2 separate regions of the Homo sapiens genome follow, and region 2 is linked to region 1. The links come from fine-mapping of genetic effects on gene expression. A gene starts in region 1. The other region holds a variant in brackets. All regions are shown on one strand. Distances are from middle to middle. Region 1 holds the start of VPS8 (VPS8 subunit of CORVET complex). Region 2 overlaps VPS8 (VPS8 subunit of CORVET complex).

What was found. PIP is the estimated chance that this variant, and not a neighbour inherited with it, causes the effect. A credible set is the group of variants that fine-mapping cannot tell apart.
Region 2: its variant is the best candidate, but not a certain one, in a credible set for the expression of VPS8 in subcutaneous fat (TwinsUK, PIP 0.85).

The regions. Positions count from the first base shown.
Region 1 is chr3:184,809,745-184,815,133 of GRCh38, forward strand. It overlaps VPS8 (VPS8 subunit of CORVET complex), which reads left to right and starts at 2,422. Exons shown (of 48, transcript NM_001009921.3): 1 at 2,422-2,481. RefSeq lists enhancers at 2,240-2,289, 2,350-2,549 and silencers at 4,583-4,672, 4,683-4,732.
Region 2 is chr3:184,936,161-184,941,549 of GRCh38, forward strand. VPS8 (VPS8 subunit of CORVET complex) reads left to right here. Exons shown (of 48, transcript NM_001009921.3): 35 at 86-175; 36 at 4,037-4,083. Among named protein-coding and RNA genes, the nearest start is that of VPS8, 130 kb to the left of the region's middle. The variant C/CT (reference allele first, on the strand shown) is at 2,489.

The DNA of each region.
Region 1 (5,389 bases):
GCCTTTTTCTGGGATGTGGGTAATTTCTGCTTTATTTTAAAATATTTCCTGAATTTTCCAAGTTTTCTACAATAAGCACACATTTTTTTTTATTATTATTAAGGCAAACAGCCCTGGAAAGGATAGCATTTGAGATTACTTCCTGCTGTGAACAGAGGTACATAAAAGGGCTGTTACTTTGGAGAGGTCTCAGAGTCAGTCTGGACCATCCTAAAATATTCTTTATTATAAGTTGAAATCTGCCTCTCTGCAACGTCCATACACAGGTCGTAGGCTTGCTTTCTTTCTACAGCTATTCAGAATAAGTCTATGAGTGTTGCAGAGATATTTCAAAAGGGTCAGTTTTTTAAAGTAATGGCAAAAACCGCAATTACTTGTGTACCAACCTAATAGCTACCTTTCCACTGCTCACCCCTATGACCCTGCTCTCCCCTACTTCTGCTAATTTCTTTTCCTCTGGATACTTTCAAAAGTTCTCTGTCACACAGGCTTTCTGGTCTCACCAGCTTGCTTATCCTTCTGTAGACAGTCTCTAGTTTAATAGCTTTACTAGAAAAATGTGATATTCAGAACCAAAGGCCGGTTTCCAGCCTTCTAAAGCACAGCTATCATCTTGCCACTCCTCTGCTCGAGTTCCTCTGGAGACTCTCACCAGAAGAGCAGAACACCCCAGCTTAGCGTGCAATGTCTTCCTGGATCTGGTCCTAGCCTTTCCAGCCTCATAGCCCACCACATCTCTAATACACACTACACCAGTGTCTTCAAACTATGGGTTGCTCTGCATCACTGAGTACTGAAATGAATTCAGTAACCAGCACTTAAAAAAAGAGAATAGAATAGAAAATACCAAGTTGCATTGTACACTCTAAGGGCAATTACTGTTTCAGCATATCTATCTATCTATCTATCTATCTATCTATCTATCTATAATGCACACTCACACATATGCGCATACTGTGTGTGTTTTTATACTAGGCCATGGCTGAAATGTATCTTTTTTTTTTTTTGAGACGGAGTCTCACTCTGTTACCCAGGCTGGAGTGCAATGGCACAATCTTGGCTCACTGCTGCAACCTCTGCCTCCTGGGTTCAAGCAATTCTCCTGCCTCAGCCTCCCGAGTAGCTGGGACCACAGGTGCATGCCACCACACCTGGCTAATTTTTGTATTTTTAGTAGAGACAGGGTTTCTCCATGTTGGTCAGGCTGGTCTTGAACTCCTGACCACCTGCCTCAGCCTCCCAAAGTGCTGGGATTGCAGGCATGAGTCACCGCACCTGGCCTGAAATGTATTTCTTACTGTGAGGGATGATTAAAAGAAGGTTGAAAGCCACTGGCCACACCACGGCTACATCAGGCCAATAACTAGTTCCCAAACTTGCTTTGTACTGCCTTTGATCCCACCCTTCCCTCAGCTAGGCATTCTCCCTGCTCTCTGCTACTGAAATCCTTCAAGGCCCTGACAAGATACCACATCCTTCCTTGAGTGTTTCACCCTTTCCCCCTGTCTGTGCGAAAATGGTGGTTCAATGTCTTTCTTTATATTACTCAAAACAGCCTGCCTTGTATTTTGTTATGTCTGTACACTGAATTCTTAGAAAATAAATACCTGGAGGACAGGGCAACACCTTCGGGTCTTCTGAAGGCCCAGAAGTCTAGTGAACCTAGCTGATGCTCAAAAATGTCTGCCCAACCGAATATTTTCTGTATCTCCTTCCAAGAGTATCTTCTGGTGTTCTTCCTCCTGTTTTCTTGACCTATATAGCCCCCAGCAGGCCTAAAATCTGTGTCCTGGGGCTAATGTTACGTACAGTGATGACTCTAGAAACCAGTCTGTTCTGAAAGCTTTCACCTTTCTTCAGGAGCGATAAGAGAAATAAGCATACGTTTTTGTTCATTTTTCAGATGTTTCCTTTATTTGAGACTATGTTTCTCCTGTATTTTTGGTGTTAAGATGTATTTTGGGGAGCAACACTGATGATATATTACAAGATAATAGTTGGTATTTTAGTATGTGTGTGCCTATTGTACTTATTTGACACAATAAATAGGCAATTCTGAGTTCATCTTTTAAAAAAAAAAAAAAGTTAAAAAAAATTTACTGGTTGCAAACTCCAAAAGGCAGGGAATCAACTTCCCTTCTGGGCTGGCTGCAAGTAAGTTCACTTTCTTAAAGGAGGAGCTTTCTCCTCTCACCTCAAGGACTGTTATTTATTTGTCTGCGCTACTCTTTCGACGTTTCCATTCTCTTGGTCCTCAAGATGTGAATCACCCATTTTTTCCGTAGGGGGGAAGACGGCGTATCTCTGGCCCTTTAAATAGGGGCGTGGTGAAGAGGCGCGGACCGCCCAGGAGGGGGAGCAGTGCGAGGAGGAAAGCGGAAGCGCTGCCCGCAGTGGTAGGTAGTGCGCGTGCGTGAGGCTAGAGCAGTGGGTGCGGTCACGTGGGCCGGCGGTCCACGGCCGGAATGGCAGCAAGCTCAGGTAACGAGTTTCCAGAGAGCGGGCCCGTGGAAGGAGACAGGATTGAGGGGCCGTATTCAGGGTAGGAGGAGAGCGCGCGACAGGTCTCTGAGCCTCGGCGTCTCCTCCCCGCGCGACAGCGGCGGGACCTCGGGGAGCGAACAGAGCAGCCCCTGACGGGCTAACCGGACCCGAGCCACGGGCCGGGCGGGGTTGATTCTCGAGTGGAGGGGCGTGTCGTACGTTGGCCCGGAACTGGGTCGGGCAATTTCCACTTACTGGTTCCAAATGAATGTGAAAATTCAAATGGGCTTAAGTAAAAAGGGATTTATTGGCTCCAAACCTGGAAGGGGCTGAGGTATCACTAAATCCAGTGACTCCGGTGATGTATTTGTGTATCTCTCCCTTTCTGCAAAGGGCCAGTAACCCCTCAGTTCCCTATCTACTTTGCGACTATAATTGCAAGCCTCATTCTGTCCTGTTACAGTCGTGCGGCAATTAGGCTGAGGGACTGGCGCGCCCGCTCCCCCGACTGTGAGCCTAGGCGGCGGGTGTCATGCCCCTCCCCACTCCCGGGCGGAACAGGTGTGTAGCCGGTCTGTCGGGCCTGGGAAACAGGTGTGGACCCCTTTAGCCTCCAGGGACTGATATCAAGGTGCCTGAGCCTGAGGCTTAGATGGGGTGTCCACCTCTTAGGATCGGTGCGCACCCTGTGAGGCTGGTTCCAGTTTGTCTCCGCGTGCAAGTTGTGCACCAGAGTGAGGGCAGCAGGGTGAAAGGTGGGCCTCTGAAGTTCGAGGCTACTCCTGTGCCTTGGCCAGTTCTTTGTGCTTGGCATCTGGGGAAGGAGGGAAACAGCTGCTCAGAGTGTCTGGGTGTACAAAATGGGGGTGCTTTACAGGAGGATAGGGTGGGAGGAGGTAGGATCGGTGAGAGGTTCCATGGCCGTGGGTTATCAGGAATAGCTAGCTGGGGAGCCTTCTTTAAATAAGCAGGCCCCCTCCACTTCTTAGATTCTTGTTAGAATGAATAGGAAGGCTTCTGGCCTCTGCACCATCCACCCTCTACCATACTCTACTTTCCCCTACTGAAAAACCCCAAAACCCAAGCAAAACAAGCATGGATGTTAGCTTGTGGTGCTAAACCTTACTCCAAATGTCTGCATTTGGGAGACAATTACATGTTAATTGTCTGTGTATGTCTATGTCTGCCTGTGTGGGTTTGAGGTATATCTAATATAAATGTGGATGGAGAATCTGCATATGTTTGTGTAAGACGTGGGTTTGCTCATGGTTAAATTTAAGCACAGAATAGGTATTGAATCCTCTGGCAATAGCTGGCCTGTTCCATAGAATATGCAATAAAGATAAATGGAAAAAAAATTCGTTGAACTACTGGGCTTTATATGGTCAAAGAGGCATTTGTGAGAAAATTCTTTCCAGAGCTCTAACAGAGTAATATGTTGATTTTTTCTTTATATTTAATATATTTGCTTCGTATCTGGACCATTGTCAGCAGATGGATGTTTTCTGTCTTCCAGAATATTGGGACATGTTGGTGATTCTTAGCTGTATCTCACTATTCCATTGACATTTCAACCAGTGTGACACAAAATGTCAGTTATGTATGTGAATGAGAAGTAAGATCTTTTGAATTTAATGAAGTATGTTTAACTTTGGATCTATTGATAGCTTTCATAGAGTTTAGATCGTATGTTCTCTTGATCCACAGCTGTAGGTGTCATCGGTACATAGTGGTAAGATCAAACTGTTGTATTCTTAACTGAATCTTGAATGAATATTTGACTTATCTTCACGCTGTATGACATTATTAAATGTGTTCTGTGTTTTAGCAAGGAAATATAGCTTTGCGTTGGATTTTTCACTGTTATGAATTTCTTAGGTTTACTGTAATAGCAATTATACTTTTTTAGTCAAAGATATTTCTGTTGCAAGTGACAGAAAATTCAAATGGGCTTAAGCTAAAAGGGATTTATTGGCTCCAAACCTGGAAGGGGCTGGGGTATCACTATATCACTAAATCCAGTGACTCCAGTGATGGAGTACTTGTGTCTCTCTCCCTTTCTGCAAAGGACCAGTAACCCCCAGTTCCCTATCTCCTCTGCAACTGTAATTGCAAGCCTCATTCTTCCTGTTACAGTCATGGGACAGTTAGGGGATATGTTCTGAGAAATGTGTGGTTAGGCAAATTTTGTCATTGTGCATGCATCATAGTGTACTTACACAAACCTAGATGGTGTAGTCTGCTACACACCTAGACTATGTGGGATGGCCTGTTGCTGCTAGGCTATAAACCAGCACAGCATGTTACTGTACTGAATACTGTAGGTGGTTGTAACACAATGGCCAAGTATTTGTATATCTAAACATAGAAAAGGTACAGTAAAAATACAGTTTAAAAGATTGAAAAATGTGAACCTGTGTGGGGCACTTACCATGGATGGAGTTTGCAGGACTGGAAGTTGCTGTGGGTGAGGCAGTGAGTAGTGAGTGAGTGTGAAGGCCTAGGACATTATTGTACACTACTGTAGACTTTTTGAACACTGTACACTTAGGCTACACTGAATTTATTAAAAATTTTTTCTTTCTCCAATAATAAATTAACCTTAGCTTACTGTAATGTAACTTTTATGTTATAAACTTTTTAATTTAAAAAAGTTTTTAACTTCTTTGTGATAAAACTTAGCTTAAAATACAAACACATTGTACAATTAGCTGTACAAAAATATTTTCTTTATATCCTTATTCTGTTAGCTTTTTTCTATTTCAAAAAATTTTAATCTTTAAAAACGAAGACGCAAACACACACATTACTCTAGGCCTACACAGAGTCAGGAAGGTCCCGGTGGAATGTCTTTAGAGGCAGTAACACATAGGGAACTGTCATCTCTTATGATAACAGTGCCTTC
Region 2 (5,389 bases), 130 kb after region 1:
GAGGTAGGTAATCGTGCCTCACATCTGTGGATATGCTGTTTAAATGAGCCATTAGAGATGGCTTTGTCTTTTCCTTTAACTCCAGGAACTCGTGTCCCTGAAGCCTTGTAAAGCTGCGGAGCTGGTTGCCACCCACTTTTCTGGACATATTGAAACGGTCATTAAAAAACTTCAGGTACATATTGCAAATATATATTGGGGAAAAATATCTAGTGGAAAGACAATTATTAAATCGTCACCTAAGAAGTTTTGATTGTAGTGATTTCTTCAGTTGACATTTATTAGCAGTTTCTATTAGGTTGGTGCAAAAGTGATTGTGGTTTTTGCCATTTCTTTAATGGCACCAACCTAATACTGTGTGTGTGTGTGTGTGTGTGTGTGTGTGTGTGTGTGTGTGTGTGGTTGGGAGCAGTTGTATGATGATCTCTTAGTTTGGAAATGAGGGAGTTCATCTTTGTGCATACAAATATGAGCTTCAAAGAAGCATTTCTGGAACTATAATGTACTTATCCTAGAAATCCTAATCCACAGATCCTCCCTTCTCCCATTTTCTTTTGCTGTAGGATCCACAACCCCGTTTTCTTTTTTTTTTTTTGAGATGGAGTCTCGCTCTGTCACCCAGGCTGGAGTGCAGTGGTGTGATCTCCACTCATTGCGAGCTCCGCCTCCCGGGTTCAAGCCATTCTCCTGCCTCAGCCTCCTGAGTAGCTGGGACTACAGATGCCTGCCACCATGCCTGGCTAATTTTTTTGTGTTTTTAGTAGAGACAGGGTTTCACCATGTTACCAGGTTGGTCTTGATCTCCTGACCTCATGATCCGCCTGCCTCGGCCTCCCAAGGTGCTGGGATTACAGGCGTGAGCCACCACATCTGGGCCACAACCCTGTTTTCTTTGAGATTCATATTTATTCAAAACTTTGTCATCCTGAAATTGTGCTGTTTAGAATGTTTCTTGGAAAATCTTAACTGGAATACAGCTATATGCATGGTAAATATTGAGAAGCTCAGTTAGAAGTACTATTGAATGGACTGTTTAAGGTATTCCACTTACCACTTACCATGGCCGTGCTGATGTTGAGTTTGCTCCCTGTCATTGTAGCCACAAGTGATAGAGGCAGGGAATAGGACAATGACAGGGACATGAAGCACCACCCAGAGTCCTCAAGTGACATTAATAGTGGTTGGGAATAGCTGTGCAAGAAGGAAATCAGAGCAGTGAGTAGGAGGTAGCTGGCATGAGAGACAAAAATATGGAATTCATTCATTCGAACACTTAGTGCTGCTCTACTCTCTACCAGTGTGCTAGGCCCTAGGGACAGAAATAAGAATACAACCTTTTCTTAAATTTTTCCTCTAGAACAGAGAAGCACTTGCATAATTATAGTCCAGTGTTGAAAGAGCTACACTAGAGATATGTGAAAAGTACTGTAGGAACAAGAGAAGAGGGTGATGGATTGCGAGAAAGACAAGAATGCCCAGAGATCCCTAATCTGGTCTTGAATGCCTAATGTCAGATTTCCAAGCAGAGACTTGGGCAGGGCTTTCTTAATAAAAAGGTTCTGGGTATAAAAGCCTTGAAGGCATAAAGCAGCATGCATGTTCAGAGAACAGTCAGGTCTGTGTGAAGCATGACGTCAGCAGGGGGTGATGGTGGAAGTGGCATTAGGTTAAGCTACTAGTGATAGGCTGGAGGGGAGGAGCTAAACTAGAGGGGTTGCAAAATACAGCTTGGAGACAAATACGAAACGGTTTCACATGTGATGCTATGAAATTTAAACTGTCTTCTGTGTACTGAGAATTATTGAAGTTCTTTAAAGCTAAAGAGCAGTATCATTAGATCCATTTTACAGAAAATGAACTTCGGATAGCAGTGGGGAGAATGGACTGGAAAGGAGAGCAAATGGAGGAGAGAGAAGAAGGTCTAGGCAAAAGATGGAGAGGACTAGCACTAAGTCAGTGGCAGTTGGAGAGGACAGATTTAGGACATTTTTGTGAAGTAAAATGTATAGGATCTGGAAATCAGTTGAATGTGATGGGAGGAGTTAAAAACAACTCCCAGATATCAGGCTTGGTTGTCCAGCATGATAATGATGAGGTCCATTAACTCAAGAAAAAGACTCACCGATTAATTCAATAAATACCTGCTCTGGGCCAAAAACATTAAGTGCTGAGGATACAAAAACATGTAAGTGTGATCCTGCTCTCTAGGAAGAAGACAAATAAGCCAAAAGACAATTACAGACTAGCTTGATTGGAATGCTAATGGAGCCCAGGATACTGAAGTAGTACACGGAAGGACATGAAATCCAGTCTAGTGAGGGAGGGTAGGAGGAGGTTTCTACCAAAACTACTCTCAACCTCCAGAGCTTCTCTCCCCTTTAAAAGTCAGCACTTCTGGTAAATTTTGCCTGTGGTGGTGGCTGTGTTGTCATTGTCCTTTAAGATTTAAAATGATCACTTGTAGGATTTTCTTTTCTTTTCTTTTTTT[C/CT]TTTTTTTTTTTTTGTAGTCTCTACGGATATTAAGAGACAGGCCCAGTAGGTGAATATAATGTCATTCATCAGACAAATATATAAAAGTAAAGTATGGGCGGGGCACAGTGGCTCACACCTATAATCCTAGCATTTTGCAAGGCCCAGGCGGGCAGATCGCTTGAGCTCAGGAGCTCAAGACCAGCCTGGGCAACATGGTGAAACCCCATCTCTACAAAAAAATCCAGAAAATTAGCTGGACATGGTGGTGGGTGCCTTTTGTCCCAGCTGTACGGGAGGCTGAGGTGGGATGATCACCTGAACCCAGGAGGTTGAGGCCGCAGTGAGCTGTGATCATGTCAGTGCACTCCAGCCTGGGTGACAGAGTGAGACCCTGTCTCAAAAAAAAAAAAAAAAAAAGGTCTGTTTGTGGAGTCTTAGACATTTCTTTTAAAGAAATGAAGTATTTACTTTATTGCATAGCTTTATAAATTGTGCAAGAATCCCACATAGATCTTACAAAGTACCTTTACTTTTGATGGCAAGAAATATGCCTCTGACCAATTGTTTTCAGAATTCTTAAAATGAAAAATTGCCAGAATGTTATGTTATAACTGAGAAGAAAGTCATGTAAAATAACACAAAGTGATAGTGAAAAAATAGAAAATCAGACTGATAAAAATAAATATATTTTTAAATCATATTTTATATTAATCTTTTTCATCTTTAAGAGTCCCCCATTTTTTACAGATAAAGTGTGAATTTGTCAAAAAATAAAAAAACAAAGAAAAACTAAACAATAACAATTTTTGCATAGGTTTCCCAAGAATTTAGAAATATTCATATTTTTGTAGTATTTGAAGGTTTATCTCATTTAACCCTCACTACTACCCAATGTGGAAGGCAGAGAAGATATTGCTGTCCTCTTTTTTTTTTTTTTTTTCCACATAAGGAAATTGAATTGCTCAGAGGATAAGTAACTTACAGAAAGTCACGTAAGTGAGTAAATGGCAAAAACAGAACCCAGATTTTATGGCATGTTGATTGCTAACATGTTGCAGTTTGATTGGCATCTCTTCTGTAGTTGTTGATATTCATGAACTTTTTTGGTGGTGGTTGTTAACTTGGACCTCAAACTCCCACCCTCCCTGGATGAACTATCTCACAGCAACCCATTGCCACAGGAGGACCAGGTTAAGGCAAGGTGAAACTGATCAGTGCATCCAGAGCTCAGCATCCACAGAGCAGTTCCAAGCACCTGCCACTCCGAGGGTCCTTGTGCTGGGAACAGCTCGAGGATTTGTCTCAGTAGAGGTCTGTTTTGGGCGATAATAGGGTGTTTGTGTTCCGTTTACACTGAGAAGTGAATGTGCGACAGTGATTAGAATTATTGAGAAGACATAACCTCCAGATGATTCTTTAGAATTTCTTAGATCTGTACAGAGGGCTTTGTGGAAATACTCAGATATCTGTGCATAAAGGGATAGGTTAAAGTAGTTCTTTACCATGGAATATTTGAAAAATTTGTTTTAATATTTAATTGTAATTTTTATTGTTTTTCTGTTCAGAACCAGGTTTTGCTTTTCAAATTTTTGAGGAGTCTTCTTGACCCAAGGTATGTTGACAAACTTTAGTCTTTCATTATATATATATATATATATGAGAAATAAAAGGAAATAAATAAAGTTACCAGCCCATGGTATCTAAATAATACAATTAGCTCTTAATTTTTTATATTAGTAGGAGCAACTGTTACACAGATAATGTGAAAATAGAAGATCTGAACGATAGATTATATCTTGAGATAATACTTTTCTTTCCATTTGAACATGAGCATATATGGTGAGTTCTCATGGGTGTAAATAAAATAATGAAGCCATGCCACAAGGACATGTTTCAGAAGAGTTAGCTTCCCCCTCCTGCCCTTGTTTCACTCTTGCCTACTCCTAACTTCATGTGGGTGATTGATGGTGGCTCTACTTTCCAAAGTTAACACTTGGTTCCCAGCCCACCTCTAAATGTATTACCTTTTAAACTCTGACTTAATATGTTTAGTTTTAAACAACTTCCTGATGGTGTGGGAAGGAAAGTTTAAATGTGTTTTTTCAACAGCTACTCTGATGTTTATATCAAATAAAAGCAAACTCAAGGAGATGATGAAATTAATAATGGATTTGTAGGCAAAGCAGTGCTGCATATGAGGTTTTAAAGTTTTGCTGTAACTACATAGAGTACATTGGGAGTTGAGGGCAGTAATATTTAATATCCTCTAAGATAGCTACTCTTGACTAGTAGTGTGCATCAGAATCACCTACGAAGCTTTTAAAAATTCAGATGGCTTGTCCCAACCCACAGAATCACTGGGAGTTGGAATATTTTGATGCACACCTAGAGTTAAGCATGGTTTACGTGTAATTTTCCAAGATGACATAGCTTTCATATCAGACATACAAACTTTAGGTTTCATTATAATATATGCTGGCCATTGAAAACAACTATTTACTTACGTTAGCAATTGTAATATCAGCTTTGGTTATTTCCGTGTTCTGTGAGATTTTAAAATACCAAAATACCAGTAATTTTGTTGGTTGTAAAATTTTTTTGAAAGCTCAACCATTTAAATCTTGAATAGGCTGTGGTACATTTAAATTTAGTCAAACGAATATGTATGTGTAGATGTTTACTAAAAGCAGACTGATTACAAAGCCCCCTCCACTTGTGTTCAAGACCTTTTCAAAGTATCTGTATTTTAATTCTCTGTCCTCAGATTATTACTGAGGGTAGACATCCTTTTTTTTTTTTTTTTTTTAAATTCCTATTAATCATGTGTATTTCCCTCAGAGTCAGTTCGGGCCCTTTTCTACTCCCAGAATTAACTGATGGAAAGATTTTAGAATTGGAGTTGGGAGTGGGAGGGAAGA